Linked DNA regions of Homo sapiens: region 1 is linked to region 2. Evidence: fine-mapped expression QTL. A gene starts in region 2. The other region holds a variant in brackets. All regions are shown on one strand. Distances are from middle to middle.

Region 1 (11,219 bases), 190 kb before region 2:
TGTTATCCAAACTATGAGTACCCTCAAGGCTCCCCAATCCACCCACCTCTGTTAGGTTTACTGAAGACATTTGGATAGAATCCTTCAAGGTTTGGGTGGGCCCACCTACATAGAGCAGTCAACTCATCTACCAAGTTGTGGTCTTGTTTCAAGATAAAGAGATAGCAGCCAATTTGAATTCTCATTGGAACAAGGCTCACTGGACTGCAGATCACACTGATACACTGGTTTTTCTGTCAGTCGCCTAAGACATGCTGAACTTCTATTTTGTTATCATTGTGTTTCATGCTGCTTAGGCAGCAGAACTTTGTGACAGCTTCCTGGTTGGCTTCATAAGGCTCATGGAAATCTTTGGCTATCTGTTGGGTTCTCTGGCACGGGCTCCATATAACCTTGTACAACCCCAGTCCTCTCCAGAGTTATTATACCACCCCATCACCATGGCCTCACATTACATTTGTTACAATGCCTGAGTTCTTTTCCTAGCTTAGGTATGTTTAGGAGGATGAGGGTTGAGGTGGGATAAAAGACGTATTGCAACAACATAGGGATTATCATTCAGTACTTCCTGAATGACCATATCTAGAACTTTAAAATATTTCTAGCCTTTGAAGTTGAAGGAAATTTCCTGATGTATAAGGGCATATTCTGACACTTGCTTATAAATGTTTTGTACCTTTACGGTACAAAATAGAGCATTAGCTAAGATCACTCCATGTAGAAAGAACATGTGCATTTAGGTTGAATAGAGCAATGGAAACAAAGACCAACAAAGAAAGACATTGTATTAGTTTCCTATGATTGCTCTGACAAATTACCATAAACGTAGTGGCTTAAAACAACAGGAATTTATCATCTTAAAGTTATGGAAGTCAGAATTCTGAAATGGGTCTTTTGGGACTAAAATCAAAGTGAAATCAACAGAGCTGGTGTTCCTTCTGGAAGCTCATGGGGAGAATCTTACCCCTCTAGCTTTTTTCTTTTTTTTTCCTTTGCCCAGGCTGGAGTGCAGTGGCACAATCTCGGCTCACTGCAACGTCTGCCTCCCGGGTTCAAGTGATTCTCCTGCCTCAGCCTCCTGAGTAGCTGGGATTATAGACGCACGCCACCATGCCTAGCTAATTTTTGTATTTTTAGTAGAGACGGGGTTTCACCATGTTGATCAGGCTGGTCTCGAACTCCTGACCTCGTGATCTGCCCACCTTGGCCTCCCAAAGTGCTGGGATTACAGGCGTGAGCCACTGCACCTGGCCCAGGACGTAGACATCTTTAGTGGGGTATTGTTCTGCCCACCACAGATACTATTGCTTCTGGTGTTAAATAACATTTTATTTGAGTAGATAAGAAATATGACCCTGTATCTTCCCAAAAGACAAATGGAGATCATTAGTAAACAACTCAGTCACTTCATCTGGCTTCCCTCACTATTTCTTGTCACCTGTTGTCCAGCTGCTTCAGCTACGGACCATAGATTGGCATTCCCTGCATGCACTTGCTGGCTTCTTCTCTCTTTCCTTAGCTACGGACACTAATTAAGCACTTTCCCGGGTACTATGCCCACGCCCACTCATGAATACACAAACCCTACTGTGCTAAGGCATTATTACTGAGGCAAAAATGAACTCTCTTCTGAAGCATTTTACTGGTAGCATCTGTGGAGAGCTTGCAATTTCTCTAGTCTTGGAAATTGTTTAGACACAAAATAGCTACTTTCCATCCTGAGTATCTCCTGAGAACATTGTCAGATAAGATTCAAGTTTCTTGGATTTTCAGATTATATTGTACTCCAATGAGCCTTCTATTCCTGGGATATCTAATTTTGTCCTCCTCCACCCCTTCCTTTCACAGCTCTAGGCAGAATAGAAGCTGGCAAAGACCTCAAATGATTTATTTTTTAATATAACAAAGTTTAAAGCTCTAGTTACATTGATGCCACAAAAATGCACAAATCATCACACACATATACATATATATGAGAATGTTCTATTTATGTAAGTAGTAATTGTGCATTTCAATAAGACTGAATGATTCATAGGAATTTTCAGAAAGCAGCACAGACATGAATCTTTAATCTTCTAAAAGACCTTTATGTTTTCCCTTCAGGGAGAACAACAAATTTGCTTTTGCTAAATAGTCTTTAATTTCCTTTTTATTTTAGGTTTTTAGGATTTATATAATTTACAGTTTTCCAGATATTCATTATTTATTCCGTATGGAAGTGCTTCATAGTACCATATATTATTTTAATTGATGATGGAGAGTTAATAATTTTTTGTTTCAGCAACCAAACTATTAATTTCCAAAGTGGTTTCTCATTCAAAACCATAGTTGTAGGCTATTATAATGAAATTATTCACGAAATTAGTTTCCAAAGACTAAATATTAATTTGGCATTTTCTCAATGATTAGAGTTTTCTGAAATGTTTGTGGTATAGAGGAGCCTGAAATACAACCCTGTGCAATAATATGCATTCTTTGTTTTCAAGGGCCTTTTCTCAAGTAGAGGCTTCACATTCTTCATGACTTTGAGATAAATTGCTTGTGGCTATTTTTTGCTTTTACCACTTACAAAGTTAAAGGTACTGTGTTTTTTACAGTTTTTTGCTTTTACCACTTACAAAGTTAAAGATACTGTGTTTTTTTTTAAATAATTTGGACAGATTCATGAGGAGAAAATTACAATAATAATAATCAGCTGTTTCAACAAGTCTTAGAAAAATAGAAGACTGAGATATAGATTTCCTGTGTGCACCAACAGATTGATTGAAAATGAAGAGGCAGGCTTGGTATATGAAGATGATTCATCCGCAATGTGATCTGTGTTCTGATGAAGGTAAGGGCTAAGTGCTAAGTTAGCATTGAGGTGACAATGCCTTATCTTGTCTGAGAGAGTAGGGAAAGGGCAGTCTCTTCAATAAATGGTGCTGGGAAAACTGGATGTCTACACGCAGAAGAGTGAAACTAAACTCCTGTCTCTCACCATTTATTAAAATCAACTCAAAATGCATTAAAGATGTAAATGTAGGATGTGAAACTATGAAACTACTAGAAGAAAACATTGGGGAAATGCTCCAGGATATTGGTCTGGGCAAAGAGTGTTTTTGTGTAAGACCTTAAAAGCACAGGCAACAAAAGCAAAAATAGACAAATGGGATTACATCAAACGAAAAATCTTCTGCACAGCAAAGGATACAAACAGCAGAGTGAAGCGAAAACCCACAGAATGAGAGAAAATATTTGCAAACTATACCACTGACAAGGGGTTAATATCAAGAATAAATAGGGAACTCAAACAACTCAGTAGCAGAAACCCCCCAAGTTATCTGATTAAAAATAAGACAAAAGATCTGAATTGATATTTTTCAGAAGATGACATACAAATGGCCAACAGTTATATGAAAAAATGTTCAACATCGTTAATCATCAGGGAAATGCAAACAAATCAAATCTACAATGAGATATCATCTCACTCCAGTTAGAATGGATATAGTCAAAAAGAAAAAAATGACAAATGCTGGTGAGGATATGGTGAAAGAGGAACTTATACACTGTTGATGAGAATGCAAGTTAGATAGCCATTGTGGACAACAACAAAAGTTTCTCAAATAATTAAAAATAGAGCTACCATTTGATCCAGCAATACTACTACTGACCACATATCCAGAGAAAAAGAAATCAGTGTGTCAGACACATATCTGCACACGTATGTTTATTGTAACACTCTTTGCAATTGCCAAGATATGGAATCAATCTAAGTGTCCATCAACAAATGGATGGTTAAAAACTTGTGGCATATATACACAATGGAATACTACTCAGCCATAAGAAAGAATTGAATCCCATCATTTGCAACAACATGAATGAACCTAGAGGGCATTATGTTAAGTAAAATAAGCCAAGGACAGAAGGAAAAATACTGTTTTCTGTATTATCTCACTTTTGTATGAAATCTAAAAAAGTTGATCTCATTGAAGTATGGAGTGGAATGCTGGTTACCGGAGTCCGGGTAGCGTCACGGGGAGGGGATATTGTGAGAGATGGGTCAGTGGCTACAGAGTTAAAGTTAGATGGGAGGAATAAGTCCTGATGTTCTATTGCACAGTTAGGTGACTGTAGTTATTAATAATGTACAAGATATTTCAAAATACAATTATGCATTGCATAATGATGAGGATACCTTCGGTGAAATGTGTTCTTAGGCTATTTTGTCATTGTGTGAACTTCATACAGTATACTCATGCAAGTCTAGGTGGTATAACCTATTGCTCCTAGGCAATAAACCTGTACAGCATGTTACTATACTGAATATTGTAGGCAATTGTAACACAATGGTAAGTATTTATGTGCCTAAACATGGCTAAACTTAGAAAAGTTACAGTAAAAATATGTTGTAAAAGATTAAAATGGTACACCTGTATAGGGCAGTTACCACGAATGGCACTTGCAGGACGAGAGAAGTTGCTCTGGGTGAGTCAGTGAGTGACTGCTGAGTGAACGTGAAGGCCTAAGTCATTACACTACTGCAGGCTTCATAAACACTGTTCGCTTAACACTGCACTAAACTTATACAACATTTGTCTTTCTTCCATAATAAATTAACCTTAGCTAACTGTAACTTTTTAACTTTTTAAACTTTAAACATTAAAAAAACCTTTTAACTCTTTTGTAATAACAGCTTAAAATGCAAAGACATGGAATAGTTTTACAATACTATTTTTTCTTTATATCGTTATTCTATAAGCTTTTTCCTGTTTTAAAAACTTTTAATTTTTATTTTACTTTTTAACCTTTTTTTTTTTTTTTTTGAGACTGAGTCTCACTCTGTTGCCCAGGCTGGAGTGCAGTGGCATGATCTCGCCTCACTGCAGCCTCTGCCTCCCTGGTTCTAGCGATTCTCCTGCCTCAGCCTCTGAGGTAGCTGGGATTATAGGCATGCGCCCCCACCCCCGGCTAATTTTTGTATTTTTAGTAGAAATGGAGTTTCACCATGTTGGCCAGGCTGGTCTTGAACTCCTGACCTCAAGTGATCCACCTGCCTTGACCTCCCAAAGTGCTAGGATTACAGGCATGAGCCACAGCACACGGCCTAAACATTTTTTTTTTCTTTTAATAACTAAAACACAAACACATACATTAGCTTAGGCCTACACAGGGTCAGGATCTTTAAGACCTCACCAGGTGACAGGAATTTTTTTCAGCTCCATTATAATATTATAGGATGACTGTCATATGTGGTCCATCCTTGACTAAATGTCATTATTATGTGGCTCTTGACTATAGCTAGAGGAAAGGATTTTAGATGTCCCCACGACAAAGAAATGACAAGTGTTTGAGGTGATAGATAGGCTAATTACCCTGATTTGATCATTACATAAAGTACACATGTATCAAAACATCACACTCTACCCCATAAATATGCACTATTAGTATGTGTCAACTAAAAGGAAAAATAAACAACTAAAAAAAATATCTTCAGGTGTTTGTGGTTTTTCAGAGAGGGATGTGACTTAGGGGAGGGTGCTGTGGATTGACTGGCCAACCAGAGGGAAATATGGGGCTTTTTTGCTCACATAAATCATAAAATTGCAACAGGCGTGATAAAGAACCGATAGAGGACTTCAAATATATAGACATGTTTCGGGAGTCTCATGCTGCTGAAAGCGGAGCAACCGATAAGCTTTCGCCTGGTCTTGCTGGCAGGTTCATTTATAAGCAGTAGTGAAAGAAAAAATGTTAGTGAAATAGGCTGTCTGATGTGGAGTTTTCTGACTTTGTAGAAATAATTTATCAGATGTTTTGATGACTGCAGGTTTGCTCAGTGATAAAGCACAGACTTAAGTGTCAACTGAATTTGGATTCAAATTCAAGGTATGCCATTACCAGTAGAATTACCTCGAACAAGTTAGTTAACTTCTTTGGGTCATGAAATTTTCATTCGTGTAATAAGGAAAATATTAATTCATACCACAGAGGATTGTTGTCAGGTTTAAACAAGATAGTGCTTGTAAAGTGCATGGTAGACAGTGTACACTGGAATGCTTGTTTGATTATGACGAAAAA[GAA/A]ATTTTAGAAAGAGACAAGTCCCTGAAGCCTATATAGACCCTTCTTTCTATGCTGTATTTCTCACTAACGTTACCTTGTTTTACAAACTAGATGCCTGCCATTAAAAAGGAGGAACTGTCTTTGAGGAGTTAGGATCAATTATGTGTTAACAAGACAAATGTGTATTTGAAATTTTAACCCTTCTGTCATTAATTAATCTGGGAGCTATGGTAAAAAAATTTAAGATTTTTCTTCTCTTAAAACTAGCTGACTGGACTGCATCTAAGTTTTCATTAAGTAGGCAATCAAAATCTTCAGTTTTTATTTAAAAAGACTCGTGGTAGAGAGAGACAGTTTAAATGCATAAGGAATGAGGTGGAATAATGATTTGGTGCATATATTCTGATAATTACTACTTCCTTTCTCTCAGCTCCCTTGCAATAAATGTGCTGTCTTTTTAAACTTCATTAACAAGAGATTACAAATTTTAATGGGGTACAATAATTCTACCTTAATTTCAGAGCAATGTAATGCAGGTATCTGTTCTTTCTAAGTAATTTTCCCTGAAATATTCCCAATGATTCAGAAAAGTTCTTTAAGGATTGAAATGATATATAGTGTTGGTACCAAATACATTTTATATTTTAATATTGAATGTTAGATATTATTAAGCCTTTAGTATTGCAAGTGAAACAACAGCTGATTGTGCTCTTGTGCAGAAACCAAATCTTTCTTTTTTTTTTTTTTTTTCCATTTAACCATGAGTGGACACAGCACATGTTTCAGAGAGCACAGGGTTGGGGGTAAGGTCACAGATCAACAGGATCCCAAGGCAGAAGAATTTTTCTTAGTGCAGAACAAAATGAAAAGTCTCCCATGTCTACTTCTTTCTACACAGACACGGCAACCATCCGATTTCTCAATCTTTTCCCCACCTTTCCATTCCACAAAGCCGCCATTGTCATCCTGGCCCGTTCTCAATGAGCTGTTGGGCACACCTCCCAGACGGGGTGGTGGCCGGGCAGAGGGGCTCCTCACTTCCCAGTAGGGGCGGCCGGGCAGAGGCGCCCCTCACCTCCCGGACGGGGCGGCTGGCCGGGCAGGGGGGGCTGACCCCCCCCACCTCCCTCCCGGACGGGGCGGCTGGCCGGGCGGGGGGCTGACCCCCCCCACCTCCCTCCCGGACCGGGCGGCTGGCCGGGCAGAGGGGCTCCTCACTTCCCAGTAGGGGCGGCCGGGCAGAGGCGCCCCTCACGTCCCAGACGGGGCGGCTGGCCGGGCGGAGGGCTGACCCCCCCACCTCCCTCCCGGACAGGGCGGCTGGCCAGGCGGGGGGCTGACCCCCCCACCTCCCTCCCGGATGGGGCGGCTGGCCAGGCGGGGGGCTGACCCCCCCACCTCCCTCCCGGACGGGGCGGCTGGCCGGGTGGGGGGGCTGACCCCCCCACCTCCCTCCCGGACCGGGTGGCTGGCCGGGCAGAGGGGCTCCTCACTTCCCAGTAGGGGCGGCCGGGCAGAGGCGCCCCTCACCTCCCAGACGGGGCGGCTGGCCGGGCGGAGGGCTGACCCCCCCCACCTCCCTCCCGGACAGGGCGGCTGGCTGGGCGGGGGGCTGACCCCCCCACCTCCCTCCCGGATGGCACGGCTGGCCGGGCGGGGGGGCTGACTCCCCACCTCCCTCCCGGATGGGGCGGCTGGCCGGGCGGGGGGCTGACCCCCCCCACCTCCCTCCCGGACGGGGTGGCTGCCGGGCGGAGACGCTCCTCACTTCCCAGATGGGGTGGCTGCCGGGCGGAGAGGCTCCACACTTCTCAGACGGGGCGGCTGCCGGGCGGAGGGGCTCCTCACTTCTCAGACGGGGTGGTTGCCAGGCAGAGGGTCTCCTCACTTCTCAGACGGGGCGGCCGGGCAGAGACGCTCCTCACCTCCCAGACGGGGTCTCGGCCGGGCAGAGGCGCTCCTCACATCCCAGATGGGGCGGCGGGGCAGAGGCGCTCCCCACATCTCAGACGATGGGCGGCCGGGCAGAGACGCTCCTCACTTCCTAGATGTGATGGCGGCTGGGAAGAGGCGCTCCTCACTTCCTAGATGGGATGGCGGCCGGGCGGAGACGCTCCTCACTTTCCAGACTGGGCAGCCAGGCAGAGGGGCTCCTCACATCCCAGACATGGGCGGCCAGGCAGAGACACTCCTCACTTCCCAGACGGGGTGGCGGCCGGGCAGAGGCTGCAATCTCGGCACTTTGGGAGGCCAAGGCAGGCGGCTGGGAGGTGTAGGTTGTAGTGAGCCGAGATCACGCCACTGCACTCCAGCCTGGGCACCATTGAGCACTGAGTGAACGAGACTCCGTCTGCAATCCCGGCACCTCGGGAGGCCGAGGCTGGCGGATCACTCGCGGTTAGGGGCTGGAGACCGGCCCGGCCAACACAGTGAAACCCCGTCTCCACCAAAACCAGTCAGGCGTGGCGGCGCGTGCCTGCAATCGCAGGCACTCGGCAGGCTGAGGCAGGAGAATCAGGCAGGGAGGTTGCAGTGAGCCGAGATGGCAGCAGTACAGTCCAGCTTCGGCTCCACATGAGAGGGAGACTGTGGGGAGAGGGAGAGGGAGACGGAGAGGGAGAGGGAGAGGGAGAGGGAGAGGGAGAGGGAGAGGGAGAGCGAGAACGCTCACATCTTCTATCTGTCCAAACTCAAACCAAATCTTTCTTACCAAGTTTTAACATTTTAATAGGAATTAAGGTTTTCTTAGCAGTGGTTGTGGCTTAGTGGATAACGCACTAAGAAAATCTGGCAACCAGCGCTTAACCAGACCTAAGTGCCAAAATGACTGAGCTATAACTCAAGTAAAAGCATTTTAACATTTTATGAAATATTGAAACATCACATCCACAATCAGTAGGCCTCAACACTGAAAATGGCAATTATGCAATTCGGAGACCACCATGGACATAATCCTGGCCTTTTTTTCTTTTTCTCACTGGACTGGCGTCTAGTCTTTGTAATACTGATTTTTTTTTTTCTGAATATGTTCCCTATCCAGTGATGTTTCTAAACCTCTGAATTTGAGAAGGGATAATTGAAGCAACTAAATAAATGGATTACGAAAAATTGTGCAAAATTTATTTCCAAAGTTCAAGAAAGAGCCAAAAAGCTTTCCTGGAATGGTCTTGGGTTTAGAATGAACTTTTAAGTTGAAAACAGAAATTTTCCCCCAAGAGAGATTGTCCTTTGAAACTGTCAAGAATAAACAAACAGCAACAATTATTCTCTGATTCTTGCTTCCTGAGAAACTAATAGTTCTTGAGATTGGTCCTGTGGGATAAAAGAAGCCTTTGCATTTTCTCTAAGTAAGATGTTTTGAATTTAACTTCACACTTAACAGTTTTTTTCTCTGTCTCATCATGTTATCAATTACATCCTGAGGCATGTTTTAGCTTCTGTTTTAATTGATTCCCATACTGTTCTGTAGAGACTATCACTAGTCATCAATTCCTTCATAGTTTAATTTAAGTTTTTCTTTTTTTTTTGGCAAGGGGGAGATAGAAGGACAGGGTAGCAATTTAACATGTTTCATTATGAGTCCCTGCTTTAATATTACTTTATATCAAGCTGATCAAGAGTCGAACACATGATATTTCCAGTTGGGTGTGTATGAAAAAGCTCAGGGATAGGGCACAATTAAGAGAATTTTTTTGTTGTTGTTGTTAATGAGAAGATCCATTCATCTCCCTGTCAGCCAATTTTTTTGACCCTTAGGGATTTTATCTGTGGAGAAATTACTGTAAAGCAATGTGGCAAATTGCTTTAGAATAATCCTGCCAGAGTCAGAGACTTCCTGGTTTTCCACCCCCTTCCCTCCTACCCAGCCTGGTAAAACTTTGTCTCCTGTGACTTCAGGGGAATCCATTCTCTGAAACCATTTCTTACCTCTGCAAAAAAGTGTAATCTAGAGGGAGCTTCATTGAAAGGGCAAGAAATTTGAAGTCAGATAAATTGGGTTTTCCTTGATTTTCTCATGGTTAAAATGCATGTTGAAGCTGGGCGCGGTGGCTCACACCTGTAATCCCAGCACTTTGGGAAGCCCTGGCGGGTGGATCACGAGGTCAGGAGTTCAAGACCACCCTGACCAACATGGTGAAACCCTGTCTGTACTAAAAATACAAAAATGAGCTGGGCGTGGTGGTATTCGCCTGTAGTCCCAGCTACTTGGGAGGCTGAGGCAGGAGAATCGCCTGAACCCAGGAGGTGGAGGTTCCAGTGAGCCAAAATTGCTCCACTGCACTCCAGTCTGGGTGACAGAGTGAGACTCAATCTCAAAAAAAAAAAAAAAAAGAATGTTGGGTGTTGGGGAGGAAAAAATTTTTGTCTACTTGCTTATGCTAAGTGCTTGGGGGCCTGCAAATTAAACTACAGAAGAAAAGACACGCAGGTTTTGTTAATATTTATTGGCACAGAGATCACAGAAAATATTAGGTTGGTGCAAAAATAATTGCGGTTTTGCCTTTTTTTTTTTTCTTTTTCTTTTCTTTTTTTTTTTTGAGAGGCAGTCTCACTCTGTTCCCCAGGCTGGAGTGCAATGGTGCAATCTTGGCTCACCGCAACCTCTGCCTCCTGGGTTCAAGTGATTCTCCTGCCTCAGTCTCCCAAGTAGCTGGGATTACAGGTGTGTGCCAACACATCTGGCTAATTTTTGAATTTTTAGTGGAGTTGGGGTTTCACCATGTTGGCCAAGCTAGTCTTGAACTCCTGACCTCAGGTAATTGGCCCACCTTGGCCTCCCAAAGTGCTGGGATTACAGGCAGGAGCCATTGTGCCCAGTTGGTTTTTGCCATTACTTTCAATGGCAAAAAATTGCAATTACTTTTGCACCAAGCTAAGAAGTGAAACAAAGAAATGATTAGATTTAGGAAACAGTGCTTGGGCTTCAAAGGATCATAAATTATAGGGGAAGTGACTGGGAAATATGTAGGGGATCTAATGGAAAATAAAGACTATTGTAGAAGATAAGTTTTTTTTTTTTTTGAGGCAGAGTCTCATTCTGTCTTTGAGCCTGGAGTGCAGTGGCGTGATCTCGGCTCACTGCAAGCTCCGCCTCCTGGGTTCACACTATTCTCCTGCCTCAGCCTCCTGAGTAGCTGGGACTACAGGCGCCCGCCACCACACCCAGCTATTTTTTT
Region 2 (11,219 bases):
ATTCTAGTATCAAATGTAAATGAAATTTACAAGAACGTGTCTAATTTGGTAAAATGAATAGATTTGGAAAACCCGCTAAGGAGACTCCCTTATCCCAGGTTAGAGCATGCCTCATTACCTTGAGCAGTATTTTTAAAGGAATCATTTACATACTCCTCCAAATTCTCTTTACTCTTTTAGATGCCCTCCAGGAAGCATCACAGGTTGGAAAGATGGAGTAGCCTGCTCAGATGGGTCTTATACTTTGTTTATAAGTCTGTCTCCCTTCACAGGAATGCAACCTTTTGCACGGGCAGGCTCCGTGTCATATGTATGTTTTCATTTCTAGCACTTAGCACATTATCTGGCATATAGTGAACACTTAGCATTTGCTGAATGAATACATGACCAGGGGAGAGAAAGGAGATGACTCGTATTCCATTGCTATGGTGTGTCATACATGTGTTGGGCCCTTCACTTACTTGATTTTATTTATTTTTCACAACAACCCCAGCTCAGACATTATTTTTCTTTTTACATATGAGAGCAGCGATTACAACTCCAAGGGCTTTGAGAGCCAGCAGGTAACACTGAAGAGAAAGTAGGCAGTAACCAGTAGAAAGTGGAAGGGGTTATGGAGACGTGGCCCAGTCTAAAGGGGGCAGCCCTGACTCAGCTTCACCCAACGGGTGCTGTGTGGGAATATGGGTCCACTGTTGCTGGACTTTTTAAATTTTCCAAAAACTTAGAAATTGAGATGCTTTGGTGGAATTTCCCAACTTTAAAATCATAGTTCACATGTGCTTAAAAGAATTTGTGGCCCAAAGGAATCAAATCTGCTGGACAGTTTTGGCCACAGCAAAACCAGTTTGTACCACCTGCAATTAGGCTTAGAGAAGTTAAGGAAATTGCTCAAGGTCAGGCAATGCCTGAGCTGGGTTTCTAACTTCTAAGTTCTAAATACAATTTGCTTCCTCATATATATATATATATAAAATATATGAATATAATTCATAAGTGATAAAATTATTTTAAAGATTATTTTATTCTCTAACCAAACCAGTCATGGATATTTGGCTGTAATTCCTATATCAATTTTTTTTCTGAGAAATTTGTGTCTGGGCATGATTTCATTTTTAAAATTTTCTCAGAGAACTATGTCTTGGGTGTTATGGGGTAACCTTCATCCCTGTAATACCAGCAAGCTTGTCCAACCTGCCTTATTTTGTTGTTGTTGTTGTTCTGTTTTGTTTTGTTTAGGCTTTTAGAGTCTGAAGCCATGATTTTTAGTTTCTGTCGCTAGTAATAAGTGAAAAAGAGGGATGAGGAAGGGGCTTTACTGGCCCAACCAGAAACAGAAACTAAAAACAAATGACTGTATTCTCTCCCTTGGACATCCCTGCAGGGTCTAAGGTAATTGTCCTTTCCATTGCATTCCTGTTATCACTAGCAGATCAAGCCAGCTATGCAGTGGGATAAGCAATTCCTTGCAGAGAGACAGCATTACAGAGGCACAGATTAGGTCCCACAGCTAGTAAGTGTTGTTAAGTCCAGGATTCAAATCCAAGACTCTGAATCTAGAGCCTGTGTTCTGAACTCCTGTGATATATACCCTCTCTGAATGCAATGGTGATAGACAGAGATGCCTTTGCTTCAGGCTTCTTTTCACCAAGAATAATGAGGTGAGTGTTAGGTAGATTCTTCCCCCTTATTAATTGTTATAGAATTGTCTTCCTTTGGCTGGGTATGATGGCTCACACTTGTAATCCCAGCACTTTGAGAGGCCGAGGAGGGTGTATCAGGAGGTCAGGAGTTCGAGACCAGCCTGACAAACATGGTGAAACCGGGTCTCTATTAAAAATAAAAAAATTAGCTGGGCGTGGTTGCACCTGCCTGTAATCCCAGCTACTCAGGAGGCTGAGGAAGGAGGAATCCGGGAGGGGGAGGTTGCAGTGAGCCGAGATCGTGCCACTGCACTCCAGCCTAGGCAACAAAGCAAGACTCTGTCTCAAGAAAAAAAATATCGACTTCTTTCTAAAATTCTCCATCTATCCACCCATTCATCCATCCATCCACACTCACTCATCCATACATACTTTCCACTTATCCATCCATCCATCCCTCCATTCATCCAACCATCCATCCATCCATCATCCCTCTACTCATTCATCAATCCATCATCCCTCCGCTAATCCATTCACCCATTAATCCATCCCTCCATCGATCACTCCACTCATCCATACATCCTTTTATCTACCCATCCGTCTATCCACATATCCATCCATCCACCCATCCATTCATCCATCATCCCTCTACTCATCCATCAGTTCATCATCCCTCCACTCATCCATTTATCCATCATCCCTCTACTCATTCCTCAATCCATTATCCCTGCATCCATCCATCCATCCATCCATCCATCCAACCATCCATCTACTCATCTATCTATTCTTCCATGTACTTATTTACTTCTTCACCACCACCACCACCACCAAAAATGTAGCAATTCCTTTTAGTAATAGCTGCTTCTATATCATCATGAGCTTCATCAAGGTGACTAATTTCAGAGGAAGCTTTGAGAATCAGAAACTTAAAGATTGGCATTGGATGTCTCTGAGAAAACAGCAGACAGATGTTAACAGGAGCTCTGCTGTTCTGAGTGGTATTTTCCTGGAAGTCTGTCAAGGAGTTTTCCAACTAAAATTAATTTTGTGGCATCTGAGGCAGAAACACAAGCTGTGCTTCATTCCAAGCCTTCATGCATGTGCATGTGTGCATGTGTGTGAGTGCCTCTGTGTGCCTGTGCCCATGTGCACATGCTTCTGTGTGCCTACATGTTTGTGTGTGTATATTTGTATGCATATGCATGTGTATGTGTATGCGTGCATGTGTCTGTGTGTTGGGGATGCGATCGGGCATAGTAAATATTTTGGGGAATAGTAAGAAAATGCAGCATCGCATTAATTGGCACATCTTTCATAAGAATTTAAACACCATGTAGCTCACTTTACAGAACTCAAACATGCTTTCTGAACTGCATTGAATTGAAGGCAGAAACACACCTTTGCCAGGATTACTCCAGGGAATTTAGTCACCAGCAAACGTGGAGTGGATTCTTTATAATGTGCCTATCTTTAGTTATCCAGGTGATAACAATGAATGACAGATGAAATGGCAACCAGAAGGTCTGACTATTTCTGAGGCTGACTCTACAGCTAGAAATGCTCCCCAGTGGCTCCATTCTTTGAACTCCATTAATAGGCTTTCTTGCCTTCTGGCTTTCATTTGCGTTTGGTCAGTGGTGGTGGTGATAGGAATAGCCGTCAGGGGAGGGGAACACAAGCAGCAGGCTAGAAGGGGTATGAAGGAAAGTTAGGTTGGGTATTTATTCCCCTGGGTTCTTTACAAGGGTTACTTTAGGCTGGTTGCACCCCTTAACTGAAATACACACTTCTATGACAGCCCCTTGGGTATCTGCTACCTCTTCTTTCCCCCGCAAGGCCTAGGATGGAAACAGGAACTGCCTTTACCAGCTCTGGTCTCTTGCACTATCTCCTGTGATTTTCCTACCCCTTGCTCATGACTTTGTAATAATTCCATTTATTAGCCTTAACTTGTCCCAATTTTCTGCCAAGATGTCTCTGATACACAGACCAACTGAAGTAATGGGACCCTAAAGCAAGTCTAAACCCATTTGTATGTGATTTTTCTCCATTGAAAGTTATGTAATACCAGACTTCCTTGCTCACAAGAAAGTTGTCAAGGCACAATGAGAAAGTAGACGAAGAGGCTCTGGAAGCGTTAAAATAAAAAGGCAATTCAACGGTAAGATGCTAATGCACCTTATACAATATCATCTCTGTATCTTTTCAGCTATAATAACAGGCAAGAGTAAAATGCTTAGTCACTTACTATCCCAGGAAAGTGGATCCTGTGCTTTCTGGGATGTTCATTAGGCAGCATCTTGCTTTCTACCAATAATTCAGCTGAGCATGAAAAATGTGTTGCACAAATTCCAAACTTCATCAGAACATCCCCACACTTGGCTGGGTGCCCTCCATTTTGTGGACACAGATGTCCAGTTGCTGAGACAAATGAGTCACACTGGAAATCAGTAAGTGCAATAAAACCACACTTGACTTTCAGAGTGCAGCTTGCTTGGAATGCATGGTTTTTGACCAAACTCAAGGAAGAACTTTACTGGGCATTCCAGGAAAGAGCCTCTTCTGGCTTAGGATAAAACAGTCCTTGAGGTGCCTCAGCACCCAGCATTCACAACACTCTAGGGTATACATTCCCATTGGGGCACCTCTCCATATCCTTTGCCCTGGCCATGGGCTTGCCCAGTGAGGCACAGGGATGTTTGAAGTCCTGGGTGAGCAAGCATGAACACAAGGGTTAAGCCGTCCTACCCTGTTTTCTCAGGTGATTGTTCCATACTCAGATTTTTCAGTATTGTGTGTTGATTGCCACATACCCCAAGTCTAGGTTCATCCATTTAATGAAATGTACCTCACTGGCTACAGCACTCACAGGTTTGAGCTAAGCAGGAAGAAAATGTATAAGGTGTAGCAGGTAGGTACTTTCTTGCCTGATGCATTCCACTCCTTTGATAAACAGAAACAAACAAACAAACAAAAAAAAACAAAACAAAACTGAAGGCTAGGAATAGGGTTGGAGAGCAAAGAGGAAGATCGAATTTTCTTGGACATTTTGCTGTGGAGTAGAAAGTAGAGAAGTAGAGAGCAGGAACACAGATATTTGGCACAAAGGAGGCTTTGACTTGCTAGGTACATTCTACAAAGTTTGGGGGGCTCTCTCTGGAAGGGTTCCAAGCTTGGGTAGCATCTCTGCATATCAAGGTCTCCCTGGTCTTATGTCCTTCAGACTAGACTCGAAAGTCTGATTGTTTCAGCAATGCCTCAAGGCAATGTCTTACCACCCATTTCACACGCAGTTTCTGGAATAGCCTCCTCACCTCATCTGTCTTTCTTCTCCTCCTTTACCATAGCAATAGGGACCTGAGTAGGGAGGATGCTCTGTGTCCCTGGTTCCCTCCATCTTCTTGGAAGAGTCTGGTCCCTCTCCTGATAGAGTTTCAGGTTTGCCCTGATGATCTAGATGAAGCAAAGTGTGGTGACACTTCGCTGAATGCTCTGTCAGTGTGCCTAGAAATAGAGTCTCTATCAGGGCCGTTTGCTTCCTATCACACTCCAACTGGCAAGCAGGTGGATTCTCTCACTTAGCAGCTGGCTCCCATCTGCCCCCTGTCAGTCTGCAAATATTACCCGAGTTAAACGCAAATTTCTAGCAGTGATGTGCACAGCCACAAAAAACATATGGATTCAAATATATACTTTTGAAAGTGACACCTTAGTTCAGTCATTTAAATTCGTTAGCTCAAAGATCGGTTTCATTAAAACTCCCACTTCTGCTAAACAGAAATCATGCTGACGTCAGGCACTTACCTCAATTCTCAGAAGTTGAGCAGGTCTAAGCCATCCTGTTCAATACACAATTCCCTTCAGTTTCCCTTACAAGACCTCAAACAAATGTCCAGGAACTGATTCAGGATATATGTTCTCCTCGGAAACCGGTTACTCAAGTTCTTGGTGGCTAATTACAAATACAGTAAACAAGGGACTTCACAGGGGAATCATTCAGTCGAAGCCAGCAAGGGAACTGGTGACCTTCAGTGTCACAGAGCTGGACTTCAGCACAATTAGTTCTTACAAAACAGAAAGCACATGGATTAAAAGCCACAGACACATCCTGAAGATACTTCCCTTATTTGTATACTTTTTAACTTTTATTTTAGGTTTGGGGGTACACGTGAAAATTTATTACATAGATAAACACATCATGGGGGTTTGTCATACGGATTATTTCATCACCTGGGTATTAAGCCCAGTACCCAATCGTTATCTTTTCTGCTCCTCTCCCTCCTCCCACATGTCCCTATTTCCTTATTTTAAGAAAACAACGCAGGTCATATCCCCACAGCTCTTCCTAAAGGTAGATGAATGAACTACAGGGTTCTATCAAAGACCCTCTGGGTCCAGAACTATGTGTGTCAGCTCTAGTTTACTAATCCCTTACTGAATGCATTTGACAGGATCTTTGCTGTTAACAGGGGACAGAGCAAGGACACGTGACATGTGACTTAACCTGTAAAATAACACAGCAGCTCCCATCCCCTGCTCCTCAGAGAGCTCATGTTGGTCTACAGGAGCAAGGATGTAGAGTCCCTTTCCCCTGTGTCTCCCTGAATGACTCTCACTTGGCCATAATTTACAATGAGAGGGTATACATGCTCATGGAGGATGCATATCTTTGCCTCTGTCTACCCTGACACTGGCCCTGTGGACTGGAAAGTCTTTGAGAAAATTGTGAGATCCTGGAATTGTGTGATTTCCTTCCATGCACCCAGGCTCTGAATCAGAGCCTAGACAGTGACCATCACTGGCCAGGGAGAGTCTAGAGGACATGTCATGGCTGTCATTTTTGTATCTCTTTTGTTAGATTCCTGATATCATTTATGGTCACAGGTCATTTTGCTGAAAAGGAGGAACGTGGGATCAAGTTCTGTGACTTCAGAGAAGAGTTGCGTGTACAAAACTTTGGGAGAGGATCACCACAGAGAGGTGATAAGAGCCTACTTGATCTTTTTCTTCTTCTTCTTAAAAGTGATAATATGAGCATAAAACTATTTACAGCTTTAAACAGCTTCAGTACTAAAGCGTGCATAACACATTCCTCTCAACTGAACAATACACAAGCAGGCATTCTGGAGATTTTATTGCAGCAGATTGGTGTGATTATAAGTAAGAAGATTGGCATAGTTAGCTCTCTGGAAAAAGACTTAACCCAGGTTAACACTTTAATACGAATAATTTTTTCTCTAGTTAAAAAAAAAGGTTTCTGAATGCATTTTCTTTGCTTAAACTCCACTGCATCTTACTGTATCCAATCCTACATCTTTGTCTTTATTCACATGTGTATATTCAATCCTATATCTCAAATATGAAAATTATCTCCATCCCTTCTTGCCCTGTTGTTGCCATGACTTGCAGAGCATCATCGTGCAGCTGTGGATGAATGGCCTCCTGGGGCTGTTTTCAACCTTATTTCCTTTTGCTACTGGTTAGTTTGATGCCCTAGGTTTAAGTGTTGGGATATTTGTGGTTTGGAACTTTTAAGATTTCATGTTAGTTTTTTATGGACTCCTATGCTTGAGATATGCATTCTTATCTAAAGAAAAAGATATGTTCTTGTTGACCTTCATATGACCCTCAGGAACAAAATTCAGGCTCTGGGCATCCGGGATTAAGTTTCCTAAAAAGCACTACTTCATGGGTTGACAGTTATGTGCCTTTCACATGAAAATTTCCTCTGCTGCTGAAAGAAAATGCGTAATTACCAGAGGAAATGTCACTTCACATGATGCACAGGTGATATGAGAAAAAATGTGCATTTGTGTAAAGAAACAAACATTCCCAAATACGCCTACCTCATTTGTGCTTCCTTAAGGGCAAAATGCCCTTTTGGGAAACAGACCTTTCCTAGTAGCATTTTCAATGACTCTCAGTCCTTCTCACATTTGGCTTTGACTGAATTCAGAGTTTTCTTGTCAATTAAAAATGATAAATTTAACTTCTTGCAGGAAGACAAATGATCAGCCTGTGTCAAGCATATGAAGACCTACGATTTCAGATGCACTAGAATCATCCTGAAAAATTCATCTGACACACCCAGATGGATGACCAAATGACCGTCATCCAGGGAAAGTCTGGGAGGTCTCATGCAGTATGCAGGTATTCTGAAGAGCCATTAGCTTTTAGAATGTTGCAGCAGCGTTTCTCTAGTTTTTCCTTTCTTCCTGGATCTTCATGAGAATGGCCAACGACATTCACCTCTGCCTACCCTCTGCCAGGAAAATCCAAGACCAACTTCAAGACAGATGTTTGCCCTTTTAGCTTTTATTTTTAGAGGCTCATTGTCTGGGAGTGACATCTATTTACTGGTTATTCATTTTGCTTTCTGCTTCAGGGATGTTGATAAAGAGTGTGGATCTAAATAATTACTTCCCCTCAGCCATCTCACAGAAGGTGTCCTGGTGCATTTTATATCCTGAGGGCAAACGAAAGCTCTGTGTTCTGCTTGGCAATTATTTTCTATGTCGATGCTCCTTTTTCAGCATATGAATGTGTCGAGAGGGTGACTGTTTATTATCTAGAGGTAGTGGTGGGGGCAGATATGAGGGCAGATGTGGAGGGAGGTGGGAAATTTCTAACTCTCCACTTCCATCTGTAATTTCTTTTAAACAGATACTCTGATTTTATATAAAGCAAAGCTCTTTGCATAACCAAATTGACTGCTTTTCTCAGATATTTTCCTGAATAGAATTTTTACTAAGATGGGCTTAACTAATGATGGAAGGAATGTAATCCGTCTGGGAAAAACTTAATCTTCATGGAAAATAAAATCAGATGCATAGGGGCTTTGTAAATTTCATTTACTTCTGCTTCACTTCCTTTCCATTCAAAAAGTAGTTGATTGCATGTGCATGAGAGAGAAGCCAACCAGACACTTTTTTTGTTTGTTTTTTCACCGAATGCATCATACACTGTTGGTGTCCACAAGTGACGGGATAGGGAGCTCATGGAAAAAATGAGGCTGCCCCTTTCGGGAACTTTTCTGTTGACAAAGATAGTTTTGTGAATAATAATGTTGATAAGGAAAGTAACAATCAATATTTTTGAGTTCTTATTATGCACAAAGTTGTTGGGGGAAGCTCTTTATTTGCATTTGCTCATTTAGTTGGCCCAACAATCACACAAAGTAGCTACTATTATTATCTCATGCCTACCACAAAACTCCAAATTTCAACTTTCAACAATGATTCTTCCCTAGGAGTTGCCCATCTCAGTAAACGGTAAAACCAGTTACTAATTTGCTCTGACCTCAAACTTAGAAATGAGTCATCTTTAGTTTATCTCTTTCCCGTTGCCTGCCTGCCCCTCCCTCAATTTGACAACAAATTATCCCAAATTATTGGCAGCAAGTTCCTTAAGTTGGCTTCTTTGATGTGATTCTTGCTTACCTCTCAGACCTCACCTTCCCATCACTCTTTTCACTTCCCCAGCTACACTGGCTATTCTGTTCCTTAAATCTGTCATGCTTGTTAGAAATCCATATTTAATATATCTCAAGTTCTTCCTTTTTGTTCAAATAACTTTAGCTTAAGCACCATCATCTCCAGCTTGGAATATGGAAATAATCTCCTGATTTGTCTCATGCTTTTTTTCTGGTTCCTTTATAAAGATCCAGCATAAGAATGTGCCTTGAATCATGAATCTAATCACATCACCTCACTACCTTAAGCCTACAATGGCTTTGCTTTGCTCTTGGAAGAAACACATACCTCCTAACTTAGCCTTTGTGATCTGATGGCTGCCTGCCCATCAGATCTGCCCCCATCACTGTCCCCCTCACTCACTATGTCCCAGCTTTACCAACCCCTTTTCTCTCTATCTTGAACATATCCCTGTTTTTTCTGCCTCAGAGCTTTGTACTTATTGCTTCTTATCCTGGAAAAATCTTCACCAGTGTTCACTTGATTGGTTATGTATCGTGGTCATAATTTTACACTTTAAAGTGAAAAATAAATAGTAATCAACAAGGAATAACATGCTATCACATTCATTCCACCACTGGGGAAGACTGAGACTTGGGTGTGGGAGGAGTTTGAATGACAGACAAAATAGCAGATTTTGAAGGGAGTGACTATAGATTTTGTATATTGGAGTTGGGCTGAGCCCAACCTCTTTGGGAGACAGAATGTGCATCTTCCTCTGATTTTACCATAAGCATTATAAACAAATTAAGTATGTATGTATTCATATTGCCTCACCTACTCTGTCTGATGCCAACATTGCATGGAAGAAAACTTTGGAGGGCGCAGAATTGGCAAGTCAATAGAATAGATGAATCATCTCTACTGATAAGGAAGCTGAGGCATAGAGAGGTCTTTTAAAGCTTGCTTACAGTGAAAGTTAATGTGCAGAGGCAGAACTTAAACCTAGAACTGATTTCAAAGGACCTGCTGCTCCTCTAATTATGTGCTGGCCATGTCATTCTCACACTATCTCTATTCTATAGCATTTGATTTGAATCACATAATTGAGCACATGATTCAATATACTCTTTCCTAATGTTTCATGTATGCTTTATGATATTTCATATATGTTGTCATAATACTTTGTCTCATCTACACCTTTATAAGCTCCTGAGTCCAAAGAACAGTCTTTCATAGTTTTTGGCACACAGAAAGCCCTCTACAAACCTTTGCTGCTTAGGGAATTATATTTCTGTTGTATCTTTAGACAATCAGCCAAGTTGTTATTAAATCCTCACTGTAGATATACTGCTATTTCATATGCAAAGTGATACTATTGAAAATAGAGTTCTTAGGATACAAAGTGCAATCGAAACAGAATGAATATTGAGTTTCTCTGAATGAATTTGCATACCGTGATGGTTAATATTGAGTGTCAACTTGATTGGATTGAAGGATGCAAGGTGTTGTTCCTAGGTATGTCTGTGAGGGTGTTGCCAAAGGAGATTAACACTTGAGTCAGTGGACTGGGAGAGGCAGACTCATCCTCAATCTGGGTGGGCACCATCTAATCAGCTGCCAGTGTGGCTAGGATAAAGCAAGCAGGGGAAGATGGAAGAGCAGACTTGCTGAGTCTTCCAGGCTTCACCTTTCTCCCACGCTAGATGGTTCCTGCCCTCGAACATCAGACTCCATGTTCTTCATCTTTTGTACTCTTGGACTTACACCAGTGGTTTGCCAGGGGCTTTCAGGTCTTTGGCCACAGACTGAAGGCTGCACTGTTGGCTTCCCTACTTTTGAGGTTTTGGGACTCAGACTGATTCACCTTTGGCTTCCTTGCTCCTCAACTTGCAGACAGCCTACTGTGGGACTTTACCTTGTGATCGTGTGAGTGACTTCTCCTGAATAAATTCCCTTTTGTATATACATATATCCTGTTAGTTCTGTCCCTCTAGAGAACCCTGAATAATACACATACATACACACATACATTCATCCACTCTACCCTCAGATCCTTCATAAGGGGGTTTCTTAATGGAATCAGAATAAATCATCATTCATGTTATTACCTTTTTCAACTAGATGGGAAGCAGTTTAAAACACACTATAATATCAGAATTAC

Alleles and levels. Positions count from the first base shown, and alleles are read on the strand shown. Sizes are in standard deviations (SD) of each study's normalised expression.
As copies of GAA replace A in region 1, the expression in stomach of the gene that starts at base 5,529 in region 2 goes up (moderate effect, 0.44 SD a copy in GTEx).

The links.
Region 1: its variant is fine-mapped to the expression of LINC02343 in stomach (GTEx, PIP 0.93).

The regions. Positions count from the first base shown.
Region 1 is chr13:34,537,286-34,548,504 of GRCh38, reverse strand. The region is part of intron 2 of LINC02343 (long intergenic non-protein coding RNA 2343); the gene reads right to left. The region is part of intron 1 of LINC00457 (long intergenic non-protein coding RNA 457); the gene reads left to right. Among named protein-coding and RNA genes, the nearest start is that of LINC00457, 98 kb to the left of the region's middle. The variant GAA/A (reference allele first, on the strand shown) is at 6,061.
Region 2 is chr13:34,342,353-34,353,571 of GRCh38, reverse strand. LINC02343 (long intergenic non-protein coding RNA 2343) reads right to left here and starts at 5,529. Exons shown (of 4, transcript NR_146542.1): 1 at 5,448-5,529.